2 separate regions of the Homo sapiens genome follow, and region 1 is linked to region 2. The links come from fine-mapping of genetic effects on gene expression. Tissue or cell type: stomach. Region 2 holds a variant in brackets; the other region holds the start of a gene. All regions are shown on one strand. Distances are between the middles of the regions.

Evidence for each region. PIP is the estimated chance that this variant, and not a neighbour inherited with it, causes the effect.
Region 1: it holds the start of INSYN2A, and the variant in region 2 is fine-mapped to the expression of INSYN2A in stomach (GTEx, PIP above 0.99). The same link has a PIP of 0.9 or more in ileum.

What each region holds. Positions count from the first base shown.
Region 1 is chr10:127,192,305-127,199,961 of GRCh38, reverse strand. It overlaps INSYN2A (inhibitory synaptic factor 2A), which reads left to right and starts at 3,371. Exons shown (of 6, transcript NM_001039762.3): 1 at 3,371-3,965; 2 at 7,232-7,357. The region is part of intron 27 of DOCK1 (dedicator of cytokinesis 1); the gene reads right to left.
Region 2 is chr10:127,399,811-127,407,467 of GRCh38, reverse strand. DOCK1 (dedicator of cytokinesis 1) reads right to left here. Exons shown (of 52, transcript NM_001290223.2): 39 at 4,324-4,413; 40 at 3,039-3,143. LOC105378551 (a long non-coding RNA gene) reads left to right here and starts at 7,277. Exons shown (of 3, transcript XR_001747642.3): 1 at 7,277-7,657. The variant A/G (reference allele first, on the strand shown) is at 4,083.

The sequences.
Region 1 (7,657 bases), 210 kb after region 2:
GAGACACTTTTCTCTTCTCCTGCCTTGCACACTGGAGAGGATACAGGTTAATCACACTGACAGATACACTGGTTCACTGAGGGGTAAGGGTTATTGGGGAGCATGCATGTGGACATTGCAATGACACAGTGATGATGCTCAGACAAATGAGGTCACACTGAGACAGGAAGCATCTCCATGAATTTCTATATAGGTGGAAAACTGCATAAGCAACTAGTGCAGGAGACAGAATGATCCAGCACCAGTGAAGTTGCTGTGGTCCCGGGCAACGAGTATGCCTCAAAGGTAATCCCCATTCTGATATTTTCCACCATTGATAACTTTGTCGCATTCTTGGACTTCATCTAAAGGGAATCATGTCATAAACACTGGGCGTCTGGCTTCCTTTGTTCTGCACCTTTGTAGAAGCCCTCCATGCCAAAGCATGCATCAGCAGTTAGTGCTTTTGGGTTGCTGTCTAGTATTCCACTATACGAAGAACCAAGAAATCTTTATCTACTGTTGACTGGTATTTGGATTATTTCCCGTTTGGAACAGATATAGATAAACCTGTTATGAACATTCTTGAACATGTTTGACTTGTATATTCTTGACTTTTTAATGTGGAAATTGAGACCTCAAACTCACTATACCATAGGGGTGGAATTCCAGCAATTCTCTGTACAACCCCTGCACAATTCCAAGAAGAAGGCAAAAGAAGAGAGACGTGGATATTTTGCTTAGTTAGCCGTCTTGAACTTTCCCTTATTTTTATTCCTCTGCTTTTAGGAAATCCCACTTGAAAAGTAGCTATTTTCTCCTTTGCAAGTCTATCTTTTTCAACAAAAATCTTAAGCAAAATATAAAAAGCCAATACCAATTGATTCCTAAAATGAATCTATCAAGTTTCACTTTTTTTTTTTCCTGAGGAAGCCGAGCATATTGACTCATTCTAGACCCTAAAAATATGCCTACATCCCATCTATTAAAAAAAAATGCAAGAGGGATCTGTGGGCAGGAAGATGGCTGAAACTCCCTTCTCTCCAGCCAGCCCCCAGCATGATGCTTGCTTTAAAGCCTGGAGCATGATGACACACACCTCACCCATGTGGAATATCTCTCCAGAGCCAAAGGTAAGGTGAGGCAAGTTTTCACCAATATTTTGATTTGTGATGCTGAAGACATGCACTTAAGCACTACAATATGTAAATGGTTTCCTACTTCAAAAAAAAAAAAAAGAAGCGATGCCAATGATTTTAATAGACTTAGCAAAACAACTGTAAGTCTACTACACAATTGAACAACTCTAAGCAGTCCTGATGATGCTACAGAATTCCGTTATACTCTCCTCTTCATGTAAGTGGATTTTCTAACCTGCCAATTACGGCTTTCCATTTTCTTCCTGGAGTTATACATCATGCGAATCTCAGATAGCACTGTCCTTGGAGCTGTTTTCTTGCCAGTTCACAGTGCCACCTGTGGCTGAGCACTGCCTTGCTGGGCATGCATTTATGTTGACCTGTTTTCACTCTTGGTCCCGGAAAACTTCAGCCTTCTGATACTACCAGCCCAATGCCCAAGTTTCCTGGCAGCTTTATTTACAGTCACTTTAAAAGACGGAAGGCAGATTTCAATTTTATGGATTGCCAATAAAGTAAGATTTACAGAAGTTCCCCAGACCACTGGGAAAATTACTGGAGCCCACAGCTGCAACAGCACATCCCCAAGGGAACATGCTGGAGAGTGGCAACTTCTCCTATCTGGTTTTAAACGTCCCCAACTCCTATACATTCCCTTCCCAGGCCCCTTCCAGGCAGAAGAGGGGACTGCAGTTTCCATACTGCTCACACAAAATTAAGCATCTCTTTCCAGCCAGCTCCCAACAGCCTCCCTGGTAAGCTGGAAAATCAGCTTGGGGGATCTGAGTTAAGAAGAACAACAAGAAGAGTGAGGTGGGCAGAGTTTGGATCCACAGGCTCAGGACTCCCGTCCTGGGCATATCTGGATCCCCAAGGCTGGCAAAATTGTATACCAAAGGATGCTGCGGGGTAAAGAGGGAAATAGATGACATTTTAGATTTTTTTTTCTTCTGAAATGTCTGGACACACTGCCCAAAGCATCCACATACAAAGAAGGTATTTCGTATAAAGTCATTTATAAAAAACAGACACTCTATAAGGCAGTGATAGGCTCAGTTCAGCTCAGCGAACAAGGATGGAGCTATGGCTTGGTCACAGGCACAGAGCTGGTGCTAGGTGCAGAGACTCAGGGATGTATAGGCAAAGAGGTCTCACTGCCCACTGATGTGTCTGGAGAGGTGGGTGGGTGAAGGGACTTTCCATTTGTCCTCCCAATTTCCTCTCCGAAGCCTGTCCCTTCCCTGGGGTCCACTACTTCTCTGACCTTTCCTGAGAAACAGACTAATAAATGTGGCTACTTACATTTTACATTACATTCTAGGAGCAAATCCAGGGGGCCAGGAGCCCTGCACTCGGCTGGCTGCTTAGTCCCTGGCCCAGACCCCAGGGCCTGACAGGCATCAGAGGGGCCCCTGGGTCTGCTGCTCTGAGCTCAAAACACCCAATACTCTTTGGTGGGTGGGAAATTAAGGGCGGGGATAGCTCCGTGTGCATCCTAGGTCTTTTCCTCTCCCAAGAGAATTCTACTCTGCCACAAAGGAACTCAGCCTCTGCGCCCTGTGGCTTCTGCTGACGGGTGGTGTGTGCTCTGGATGGGGGGTAGGGTTCCTGGCTAGGAGTGGCAGTGGCGCCTGCTCTGGAGTGTCCCTAAATGTCAGCATGCAACATTACCAGGCAGGCCCTCCCACTTCAGTCCTCAGGCCACTCATAGGACCTCCTGTCCCCATGTAGAGAGGCTGACACCAGGTTGGAGCCAGCACTGAAAGGATCCCCGAACTCCTGCTTCTACAAGGCAGCATCCGCAGGTGAGCGGCCAGGCACCTACAAGACACGCACCCTTCAAGCCTGGCTTCCCAAAGCCCCGCCGGGCCAGGCTGGCTGGCACAGCAGACAGTCATGCAGCAGGGTCCCCAGCGACCCCCCATCCCTGAGAGAACACACGGAGTCCCCCGCCCGCCAGCTGCTCCGGAGGCGGCTCCAGGGTAGACTCAACAAGTTCCCGGGCCATGCAGCGCCGCCTGCAGCCCAGAAACCCGGAGGACGCGCTGTGGCGGAGCCCCGCGCGCAGGCGGCAGCCGGCGGCAGCCGGCGGCAGCTCCTTCCACCTCCTCCTCCTCTTCCTCCTCCTCCTCCAGCTCTGGCGGCGGCGGGAGGGGGCTCCTCCACTCCCTCCCTATCCCCCACCCCACGCACGCGGCCCGGCCCGGCCCGGCCCCGCGCCGCCCCCGCCCCACCTCCGCCCCGCGGGGCCCGGGGCTCCGCCCGCCTCGGTGCCAGCCGGGCGCACAGGCGGCAGGCGCGCGGCTTGGGGCGCCCTCGCCTCTGGCCGCCCGGCTCCGCGGAGTAGCTGGGACCTGGAGCAGCGGAAAGGACTTCCCTCCTGCTCCCTCCTCTGCCCCGCCCCCGCCTCCTGGCCCTGGCTCTGAGATCTCGCCGAAGACAATTGCAGTAAATGAGGACATCGGAGGAGCGCGAAGCCGGGTGGCTGTGGCTGGCTCCGCCGCGTCGCGAGCAAGCGAGCGCGCGGGCGTCCCCGGAGCTGGCCCAGCCGCTGCCTCCCCGCGCGCGTCGCTAAGCGGGGCCGGAGGGACGCGAGCGACGCGAGCTGCGGCGCGGGGGCCGGCCGGGCCAGCAGGGCCGGGCCGGCAGCGGTGGAGGGGGCGGGCAGCAGGCGCGCAGCGGGCCAAGTCCCCGGAGCCGAGGCTTCCTCCGCGTGAGCGCGGCGAGTCTGGCCGCGGATGCCCTGTCCGGAGTGCTCCGTGCCGCCCCAGGCTTGCCAGGGTCCGCAGCGAGACATGCCCGAGCCAGGCGCTGCATCGACCTCGACTTATCTGTAAGCAGCGGAAGGTAAGCGGAGCCCCGCGTGCCCTCCTCCCGCGCCCCCGCGCCCGTCGTACTTGGCCGCGGGCAGAGCACCGCTGGGACGGGCGCCGACCCCGATTCGGGCGCACACACTCGGCCCCAAACCGGCTTGGCCGGAAACTCGGCGGCTCCCGGGGCCGGGACACCCCGGTGCAGCCGGGAGCGGACCCGGTGCGGTCGCAGGTGGGGGGCAAGGTTATGCAACTGCATCTGGCGCGACCGGGTCGCTGAGGGGCGTCTGGCAACTTTGGCGACGTCAGGGAGGAGCGGGGCTGCGCCTCTGCGATGTGGGTTCCAGACAGACGCCACAGCTTCGTGAGCGCCCGACAGCCCTAGCCAGGCAAAACTGGGAGATCTGGGGGCGGCCGTCTCCCCGGAAGGTTTCGAGGCTTTTAAGTATTTTCCAAACTAAAGCGCCCTGGAAAGTACAAGTACGGCTGATTAACTTCGGGGGGGGGATGAGTTGGAACAGAGGGGCCCTGACGCCGGCCGTTGAGGAGAGGCGCGAGCAGCAGTGAAGGCAGATGCCCACGTGAAATGCTCGTCTCCTCCACTCGCTGGGGTTGGCACCTTCCCGGGGCTGCGGGTTGGGGTCGGCGCCGCGGGGCTTCCCGGTGCCTGGCAGCCCGAGTCAGACCGGGACAGGCGTGGGAAACCAACCAACGCTGCAGACCTAAGAGACTGCGAGCTGGCGGGCGAGGGCAGGAGGGAGGAGGGAGCCCGCGGGCAGCCCGGGGTCGGGGCAGCTCCTGGAGCCCAAAGTCAAGAGCGAGAGTCTGCATCTTGCTGGTTCATGCTCAGGGCTCCAGGCTGATGTCCCCACTGCTTGGATAAAGAGCCGCTCCCTGTGACCTCAGCATTCTACTACCCAAAAATATGCCACAGGGAGAGGGAGCCAGTGATAAAGAGATGCCAGGAGTGGGGGAGGAGAGGTGCCTCTGGAGTAAATAGGAGAGAAAATGGGTGCGTTTTGCTTATCTACAGCCCAGGGCTCCCGCCCGGACCCCTCTCCTGCTGTTGGTCTGTGCTGGGGAGCTGCACGCGCTCTGGGCCCCTGCGCCAGAAGCAGCGGTGAAGCGGTTTACTTTGACCTTGTCTGCTTAGGCGCTGAAATTCTGCGGAAGCATCCCGAGGTGAAACTGCAAGAGTGGGAATGAACTTTGGGGGAGCCCTGCCTTGGCTGGGAAGCCAAACGATCATTTCAGAAGACTACAGCTCAGGATAGCACAGGGTAGACGTCTGTGCACTTGAACGCTCCCCCCTCAACGAGGACTTGCTAGAGGGTTACCTTTCCATGCCTTATCTCAGTGGGGGGACTGTCAGAGTGACTGCGCTGGCTGGGTACTTGATGAAAAAATACCACTCACAAGACCCGGGCCATTCCCAGAGTAGTACATACATGAAAATGATATAACCCTTATTAAGCTTACGCTACAGCAAGTTACCGTCATTTCACTATGCAGAGGCGGAAAGTGCTGGTTTTTACTATTCCCCCACACTGTACTATTTCTTACATTCATATCCTGTTGAATGTTACTTTTGAAAGTTCATATTTATCTTTGCAATTTTTTTGCAAGAATGATTAGCAAACATGCACAAGGAGCTCAAAGAAAAAATGGAAGTCCTGCCATCTGCATGCCTCACCAGATATTAATCATTTACTATCCATGTTTACTACTTACATTAGATGGCACTGCTCCTCACGATGGTTTTATTAGAGGCGCATTTGGTTAAGGAAAAGAAAAAGTCTAGCACAGCTATCACTAATTGCATGATTTTGCATAAATTACATTAGCCATGGAGAGTTTTGTTTTCTTCACTAAATTCATCATTTTGTTTAAAAGACTAAACAATTCAGTTTAATTTCTTTAGCTAAATGAAAGACTTTTCCTTAAAGACAAGATGTCCTTGAAAAGCTACATATGTCTTTAAACTTATTACAGTTGCCACGACTTTGTATTTTATCATTGTGATTAAGACTTTGAGCTTTCATGTAAGTCAGGCCCTTTATCCTATTAAGAAACAGAATTACTGGTTAAGAAATAGGCTAACAAGGCAAAAGCTGGGAAGCTCCATGTCTGCACAATGAGATTTCTGCAAGCTCTATGGGAGGCTGGGTACTCTATTACTCTGTTTACTTCGGGGGCTTCTCTGTTTTGCCACAGTTGTTTTCCCCTGTGGCAGGAAAGGGAATTTTTGTGTTTTGTTTCTCCCTCTGTAGGGAAAAATTTTTAAATAAATCAATAAATAAGAGAAAGACTTGTACGTGAAAGGCATTCATCTACAAGGAAGACTCCTACACACTGAAATAAGCAGTCCAAAAATCAAAATGATTCTCAGAAATAACAACGGATCGCAGTGGAGTGGCAGGACAGACCCGTTCACGTAGACATTTGTATTCTCTTGTTTGCGCCCAGCCATGGCTATCTCATTTAGAGACAACTACTGAACTCTGGAATATGAGAAGCAGGTGACTTATGCTTCTCAGAGACTCATGATACAGAAATGATCACAGCTACCTCCCAAAGCAGCAGCTCTGTGGTCAGATATTTACGTAGGAGGGCAGTGACAGGTTCACCACGGATTTTAACGCTTGTGAAGGATGCTGTTCAACGCGTCCATAGCATCCAAGAAGCTCAGTTGGGAAGGCAGGCAAATTCTACATACTTGAGGCAAACCACCGTCATTCTGGGAGTGTGAGGTCATAAAAACTCCCCAGATAAAACCAGTGTCATCGTCATTTTCAACAGTCTTTCATAAATGTGAAGCACCACAACCCCTCCCCACCATGATTCCACTGGTTGGAGACCTACATTCCCCAACCAGAAATTAGCTGGCATGATTTATGAAGCAGATCCTTTTTTGTCTCACATATTTGATTTTAATATTTCATAACATTATGGGGTGACTTCAATATTTTAAAGCAAAATTTAATATGATTGATACTACATGACGACACTTTCATTACCATGAAATTCTCATACAAACATTGAGAGAAGTCTTTATTCCAATACTGGAGCTAACCTATGATATATATGTAGTGAAACTTCATGACTTTTAATCAGTTTATTTAAAATGTACATTGTTCTTATACATTAAGGACAGAATACAGACTTGCAGGAACCAAACTATAGGGACCCTGACAGGATTGCTGTAAACAAGTTGTTTGGACAATGTCTTGTGTTAAGCACTAAGCCATGAAAGGATAGGTTTGAACCTTTGGACCATGTGTGATAATGTGTCTGTTTCAGATCCTGAAGGCACTAACTAAGGTATCTCCAGGCAACCAAGGATCTTACCTCTCACATTGAGAAAAACCATAACTTCAGAGACATTTCCTGGCTCCAAATTCAAGTCCTTTCAGAGACCCCTCTACTGTAAGTCACAGGATATTCAGTGTGCATTTGAGTCGTACGTGCTTTAGACATTATTCAAACCATAATGAATGGGTTGAGGGACTTTGAGGTGTATAAAGATGTTATCAGATGACAAATCACTACCTGAATAAAAACAAAACATTCTAACCTGACAAATGTGTCTCTTTCTGCTGAGTATGTATTCCCAGCTCTAATTGGGACTGAGAGAAAATTAACTTGAATGTAGAACAGCAGATATTAGGGACAAGCAGGAATTATGATTCTAAATTACTCTATAAACCTTTTGGCTAACAACATATT
Region 2 (7,657 bases):
AAGGTGATAGTATTAGAAGGTGGGGCCTCTGGAAAGGCTCCACCCTTAGGAAAGTCATCAGTGCCTCAGAAAAGAGGCCCCAGAGAGCTGCCTGCCCTTTCCACCCCATGAGAACAGGTGGAAGGCGCCATCTATGAGGAATGGCCCTCCCCAGACTCCAAATCTGCTGGCACCTTGATCTTGGACTTCCCAGCCTCCGGAACTGTGAACAATACATTCCTGTTGTTTATAAAGTACCCAGTCTAAGGTATTTTGTTACAGCAGCCCCAGTGGACTAAGACAGTCCCCTTCCCTTGCCCCAGCTTATTCTGAGTTCTCCTAAATCGCTAAAAAAAGAACCAGTTTAAGAATTGAATTCTTTTTCACTTTGTGCTTAGATATGTCTTAGAAGTACCATTATGGAAGAAAAATGCTCTATTTCTCCCCACCGCCCCCCCGAAAAAAAAAAGTCAAGCAGAAACCAGATAATATGTCATCTTAAATACAGTCTGAGCAACTTCTAAGGCTTCTATATAAAGCCACGCACTTCCAAAATTCAGTAAGATTTAATGGATAACAGACTACTATCAAACTAGCAAGCATTTTTCTTATGCTTTACATGAGAAAACATAATAATAAAAATGTATATAAAGACTTTAATAGAAAAAAGCTAGTGAGTTATAGGTAAAAACACGAATAACATTTTCTGAAAATGTCAGTTACTTTGCATTCTGAAGTGATCCTTTTGAACATGAAAACAAGGGGGAAATGTACATATAGTCAAAGATATTTATTCCTTGTAAGGTCTATAAATATCAACATGAGCACAAAAAACAGTGAGACCAATTTTTAGAGAAAAACAAAGCAAAAGGGACAGCTAGTCAGTTCTTGGAGGCTCCTCTCCAGCAGGGCATGAAGCACGCAAACATTCTGCCCACGTTTTGGTAACTGCCAGTGTCATTGGCAGATTGACCCCTGCCAGCTCATCTGTGAAGTGTGATAAATATATTGCTGCAGACCCACAGAATGATCCAGGTGTGGCGGGAAAGTCAGTTCAATATTAATCGAGCCTGTTAACCTCCATTCAGACTTTTCATTTTGTCCTTTTGGTGGTGGAGATGACCCAGCACCGCCCCTGGAGCCTGCTGTGTGTGAGCTCCTGGCACAACCTGGCATCTATTGGCTCGGGAGCTGCAACGTGTCCTCCGCACCCGGCACTGCCCTCACATAATATTCCACGCAGGCTGCTCCCTTGCTCTGGATTCTGGGATAACCATCCTGCACGGATCCAGAGTTGGTGCCTACATACCAGAGGTAGATCTCCATCCACAGGGGCCACACGCACCATCTAACACCAAGCACTGCACAAGGCTGCATGGCTTAGGGTCCACCTGCCTCCCTTTCCTAAAGATGTATGTTCCGGAGCACACACACACTCGAATTAAAGCCTTTAGCAACAGTAAGTGGCTTTAACTCCAAGCTCATTCCACCCTTCAGCTTTGTTTTTTATTGAGAATGAAGCTAATTTCAAATTTGTCTCTAATTTAGAGCTTGTAACTAAGCCTCCTTTATTCATTCTTTGGAAGGGAAGACTTTGTTCAGAATCTGTGCTTCTGATCAACCGCTGTCTTTGCTGCACGATGAAGGCAAGAGGAGAAGCTGACCAGCAGTGACCAGGAGTGACCAGGACAGGGCCAGACGCCTCCGTCACCAGGCAGGACACTGAGTGGGCAGCCAGCCTCACCTCCTAGAGCAGGCCAGAACTGTGGTGCTCCCCTGTCAACAGTGACATGCCCTTCCTAAGGGGAGGTCTGTATCCTCTGGGTGCCGTGATGAAGAGATGTCACACTATTAGTGACTCCCGTGGAGTCGGAAACACAGGACCCCAAATGAACAACGTCTGGAACCAGGGGAATCTCCCAACTGGTTTCAACTGCCCCAGACGGCTGTGCTCAAGACACAGAGCTTCTGCTTCCTAAAGCCAGAGCAATCACACATAGTCTCCTAGGATAAGAGAAAACCAAGTGTCCAAAAAAAAAAAAAAAAAGTCATAAGAAATATCAGGAAATCATGACCCACTGGTCAATGGCATCCAAAGAATGTGTTCTTGAGAAAATGTATAAACAATTCTATGGTAGGCCAGGCAGCACTATTAATATTTATGTAACTTCTCCTTTGGCCTCATGTGAATACTGGGAAATGGGCACCTGGCAGGTGATCACGGTTACTGCTTCAATTACATGTCTGAAAGCACATGCCTGTCTCAGGGATGGAGCCTGGTTTGGAGTTTCTAGCACCGTGGCCATACAGATCCATTTCCAATTTCCCATATAATTAAAAACATACATCTTCATAGCAGCACATTGGGCGGGGACAACCCAAATGTTCATCAGTGGATCAATGAATAAATAAAATGTGGCCTCTCCATGCAATGAAATACCATTCAGCCTCAAAAAGGATAAAGTTCTGACACATGCTACAACCTGGATGAAACTGGAAGACATTCGGCCGAGTGAAACAAGCCAAACACAGAAGGGCGAACACTGTACAATTCCACTAATACAAGGTCCCTACAACAGTCAGATTCATAGAGACACAAAGTAGAACGGTGGCTGCTGGGGCTGGCAGGAGGGAGAATGGGGAGTTCGTGTTTAATGGATGCAGAATCTCAGTTTTGCAAGATGAAAAAGTTCTGAAGGTAGATGGTGGTGCTGGCCGCACAACAACGTGACTGTATTAATGCCACCGAACTACACACCTAAAAATGGCTAAGATGGCAAATAGTATCACATATCATATATCACACCTCAATTAAAATAATACGTGTAAATCTCTGAAGGAGGGTCCTTTTACGGAAAAATCAGATAGAAAGGTTATATGCAACCAAATAAAATCCTGTCAACCCCTCTCTGCCCCCCGGGCTAACCACCGAGCTATGGCAGTGTAGAGAGTTGCACGATCCCACGCGGATGCAAACTCCCCACCCTTCCTCAGAACGGGAAGGGGATTTTCTGCTGGGGGAACAATCATGGCTCAGATTAGGCAGAACCAAACTTTACCCGCAGGAATGTGGGGAACCCTTGTCCGTAGTAGCCAACAGCAAAATAGTCAGGCTTGGGCCTGATCACTTTGACGATGTTTTCATAAAACTGAGCCTGTTTTTTCTGGAAGGAAAAAAGAAAATGCATTTCAGGTTTGAGTATTCAAGCATGTGTGCCTCTGGATTCTTCTTGCGGGCTCTTTAAAAGCTCTGGCAACTTCTATAGGGTGGGAGGGGGAGATGGTGGGAGAGGGAGATGGTGGGAGAGGGTACTGAGGCTTGCACCTGAATTTCATCTCACTCCATCGTTTTGACATTATTTTTCACTCATTCTCCATCATTCCGCAAGGGAATCTGAACCAACTAGCCCAAATTCAGCAAAAAGTTGTGACTTATGGGTGTTTTCAATAACCAAAGAAGTGCCATAGAAATGGCTGGCCCTTAGTATTTTTTAAAAGGTATAGGTCAGATAGTGGGATACGTTCAAAGAGAATTTAAAGGAACAGAATCGTTCTGTTCTAAATTCATGACAGACATTCCCACATCATTAAGGTGATCTGCTGAATACAAAAATGACAAGGTGGAGGAGGTAGCAATTAGAAACTAACAGCATTCCCATGGCAGAAGAAAGGTCTGGTCATTATCTATCCATCCCTCTCTCATAGAAGGGGTCAGGTTTTTTTGTTTTTTGAGACGGACTCTCACTCTGTTGCCCAGGCTGGAGTGCATTGGCGCGATCTCAGCTCACTGCAACTTCCACCTCCTGGGTTCAAGCGATTCTCCAGCCTCAGCCTCCCAAGTAGCCAGGACTACAGGCGTGTGCTACCACGCCCGGCTACTTTGTTGTATTTTTAGTAGAGATGGGGTTTCACCGTGTTAGCCAGGATGGTCTTGATCTCCTGACCTCGTGATCCGCCTGCCTTAGCCTCCCAAAGTGCTGGGATTACAGGCGTGAGCCAGTGCGCCTGGCCTGGGGTCAGTTTTAAACTAGTACAAATGTTCACAGACTCCTGGGCTGTCAAGACCGCTATACACAAGGTCAGCAGTTGTTTACGTACAATTT[A/G]TTCATAGAAGCCTTAAGAGTTTGGTTATAAGAGCTGACTTGGGACTAAAAAGTAAATATTTATGGGCCAAATATCAACCAGCAAATTAACTAAAACCATCTTCCTAGGCAAAACGGAGGGACATGGCCAAGGTCCCAGAGTGCCTGGGGTGAACCCTAACATTGACATGGAAAGAGAGATTCCTGAAAAACCAGCTGAGATTGCCTGTGTTCATTTAAATAAAAAGAAATAAAGACTCACCAGCAATTCGCTGAGTTGCTCATAATCAAACATTTCGTTCTCATACTGCTCGGCTAGCTCCTTGCCCAAGGCAATGGCCTCCTCCCACATCTGTGAGTTAAAATAAAGAAAAGAAAGAGAAGCCGAGGCCTGAATTGTGCAAAGAGTCAAACAGGAATGCAATCATTCAAAATAAAACAGTGTAGAAGTACATTTGAATGAAACATTATGGGAATAACACCGAAAAAATACAAATATTTTCTTGAGTCTCATGTCTTTTGGCTCGTGACCTGCGGCATCAGCTGGCCAAAGAGGTCAATCACTGGCATGTCAATCACGCAGGCCTCTGGCCATGGTAACAGCAGTCTGTCAGCCAGTCCTCACTGCTCCTGTCTTTGCTCTCCTGCTGCCAGCTGTGGCCCGAAGCCCGTCTGTCGGAGCAGCCTTGGAGCCAGGGAAAAGGAACCGTAGGGTGAAGAGAGGCTGTGGGGTGCCATTTATGTAGAAACTGGGCGCCTGACTTGGCTCTTTTCCCAAGCTGTCCACCTAAAAAATGCTATGTCGAATATCACCAATGATCAGAAATAACAGGGCAGACTTCGACTCTAAACTAAAGCTTGCAGAAAGTTTGATGTATGTGTGTGACTATGCTATGGATATAAAGCCTGTTATCATTTTGAAAAGGGGGAACTTTGTAAGGTAAGTAACTTTCCAAATAAGTGATTAAAATGTTGATAAGCTTTTGACACATGTGGAATAATTTTTTGATAGATAGTTGGCCTGAATTTCCCTTATTTTTCTTGGGAAAAACAAAGCGGATTACTGGAGAAAACCATGGAAAAGTAAGAGGAACCACCTCTTCCAGGAAGCCTTCCTAGCTGCCGCCCACTCTCCTCCTCTGTGCTCCCACAAAGACCCAGGATCCTGCTGCCTCAAAACTTTTGGTAAGGTACTGAAACTAGCATGACCCTTTGTCATTCCTCCTCAGAGAATATAAGCCCTTGAGGACAGGGGCTCAGCTTTATCAACCTGTAAAACCTCTGGACCTTAATCCAGGGCCTGCTTAACAAGGTTTAGTGAACAGAACTGCAGGATGCTGAGTTACAATCAGGAAAGCTTCCTATATGCTGCATTCAACTTCCATCATTCCCACAAGACGGTAGCGCCAGTCCTGAGGGGAACCACGCAGCTTTGGAACCACCCAACAGGCCAGGCTTTCTAGGCCGCGAATCTAGACTACCCTTGGCACTGAGCCCCCACCCGCCTGCTGCACAAAAAAAGATCAAGGCATTGCAGTAAAGAAAGAGTTTAATTGACATAAGGCCAGCCATGCTGTTACAGCAGGTAGCTAGTCAGGCATGAGCGGGGCAGGAGAGGGCTGTCCTGACACCCTACCAGGAAAGTCAGGTGACCGTCAGATGATGGTCAGGCAGGTGTACACTGTCTCTCTAAAATAATAATTGGTCACAGACAGTGCCAGGGAAAGGCAGTTTCCCAAGAGCTAGAAACACAAGCTGGTGATCAGCAGCTTCCTGATAAGATCTCAGGAGCTGGGTGAGTGGGCCCAAGCATGTGAATTGAGAGGCAAAATGGCGGAGTTTAACTGGTAACCTTCCAGGGGCATTCCACCGGAAAAGGGGTGCACGACGCTGGAAGTAGGCCAGCATATCAAACCCTAAGTCCAAGGTCAAATGGGGCACTTGACCTCCAAGATGTCTGCTTGGCCCTCTTCCAAGTGTACTTTCTTTTCATTCCTGCTCTAAAACTTTTTAATAAACTTTCACTCCTGCTCTGAAACTTGCCTCGGTCTCTTCTTCTGCGTTATGCCCCTCAATCGAATTCCTTCTTCTGACAAGGTGAGAACTGAGGTTGCTGCAGAGCTATACAGATTTGCGGCCAGTAACACCGCCACGTGGGAGACGGTGTCATTACTCAAATCAATCTCCCCAAAGGTTCCTAGGGGAGGGGCTTTTCAAAGGCAGTTTGGGAGAAGGGGTGGTGGCGGCCAGGTAATGGATGCTTGCTGCTGATGAAATCACAGGGGGTCAGAGCTGTCCTCTTGAGCTGAGTTGCTTCTAGGTGGGCCATAGGAGTGGGGCTGGTGGTCTGGGTAGAGCCAGGTGTCAGACATGCAAAAAACCTGAAAAGATCTCAAAAGGCTCATCTACGATAGTGAAGTTGTATATTTTGTGAGCAGTCTACACCTTAGCAGAATTCAGGTTTCTCCCCTCTTCCTAGCCTGATGGCCTTTCATTAGCTTTATCAAGGCAGCTGAGTTTTAGGGAAGGCCTATTATCATTTAAACCTTAAACTAGAGGTCTCCCAAAGTTGGCTTAGCCAAAGCCCAGGAATGATTACAGGAGAGGCATGACTGGGGGTGGGAGGTGGGTGAGGATTTAGATCAGATCTCTTTTACTGCCATCATTTCCTCACTGTTAATTTTTTTTGCAAAGGTGATTTTGGCTTTTCCCAGCTTACTCTATGTCCAGCCACCTGTGCTCTCCGGTTTAAGGCCTCCAATCACCTTGTCAGGTGGGCATCTGCATTATACCCATTTTGCAGATAAGGAATCTAGGGATCAGACTGGTAAGTAGCTTGCCAAGGACACACAGCAGATAAGCGGTGGGCTTGACCCAGCGTGGCCTTTTTGAAAGTCCTTGCTCCTGATGGCCACATAGCAGCACTTCCAAGCTGCTTCCCCACCTCCTGCCAGGATGGATTTGAAAAGAGTCCAGGCTGGCCTTGAACTGCAGGTTCCCACAGGGGAGGCAGACTGCCAAGCCCCAGACCTGGGTCACCCATGGCACTGAGCCCCCACCCGCTCACTGGCCTTTGCCTTTCCTTTCCAGGATGACCCCACTGAAGTCCTCACTCACTTCAGAGCCACCCAATAAACTTAAGAACACTGTTTTACTTAAATGCTCCCAAAGTACTCTTGTCATAGCCACGACGTAAAGAAACCATCTGCTTTTTTTTTTTTTTGATGAGAGTAAAAGTTATTCTACAATCAGAGCTGCATTTTAATACTTTGAATAACAAAATAAAAGTAAGCCCAAAGAAGACAAAGGTTTCAGAGCTGGGACCAGTGTCCAGGGAGGGTAGGAGGTGGCCCAAGACATCCTGCCTACGGTCCCTGCTCTGCTACCTGGTCCCTTCCCAGAGTCCCCATCTGTCTGTCTCCCCCATCCTGCTGAAGGTTTAAAGTTGCCTCCCATTCCTGGAATATCTCAGTCTGCTGCTCTAAGTCTTTCGTATGTCCTCTGCCAGAGCCCCGGCTCACATTTTCTAGGAAGGGAGAACTTCCCTACTTTTAACGTTTTTTTAAAGCTCCAGTGACCACTTCCTCTCTGAGCAG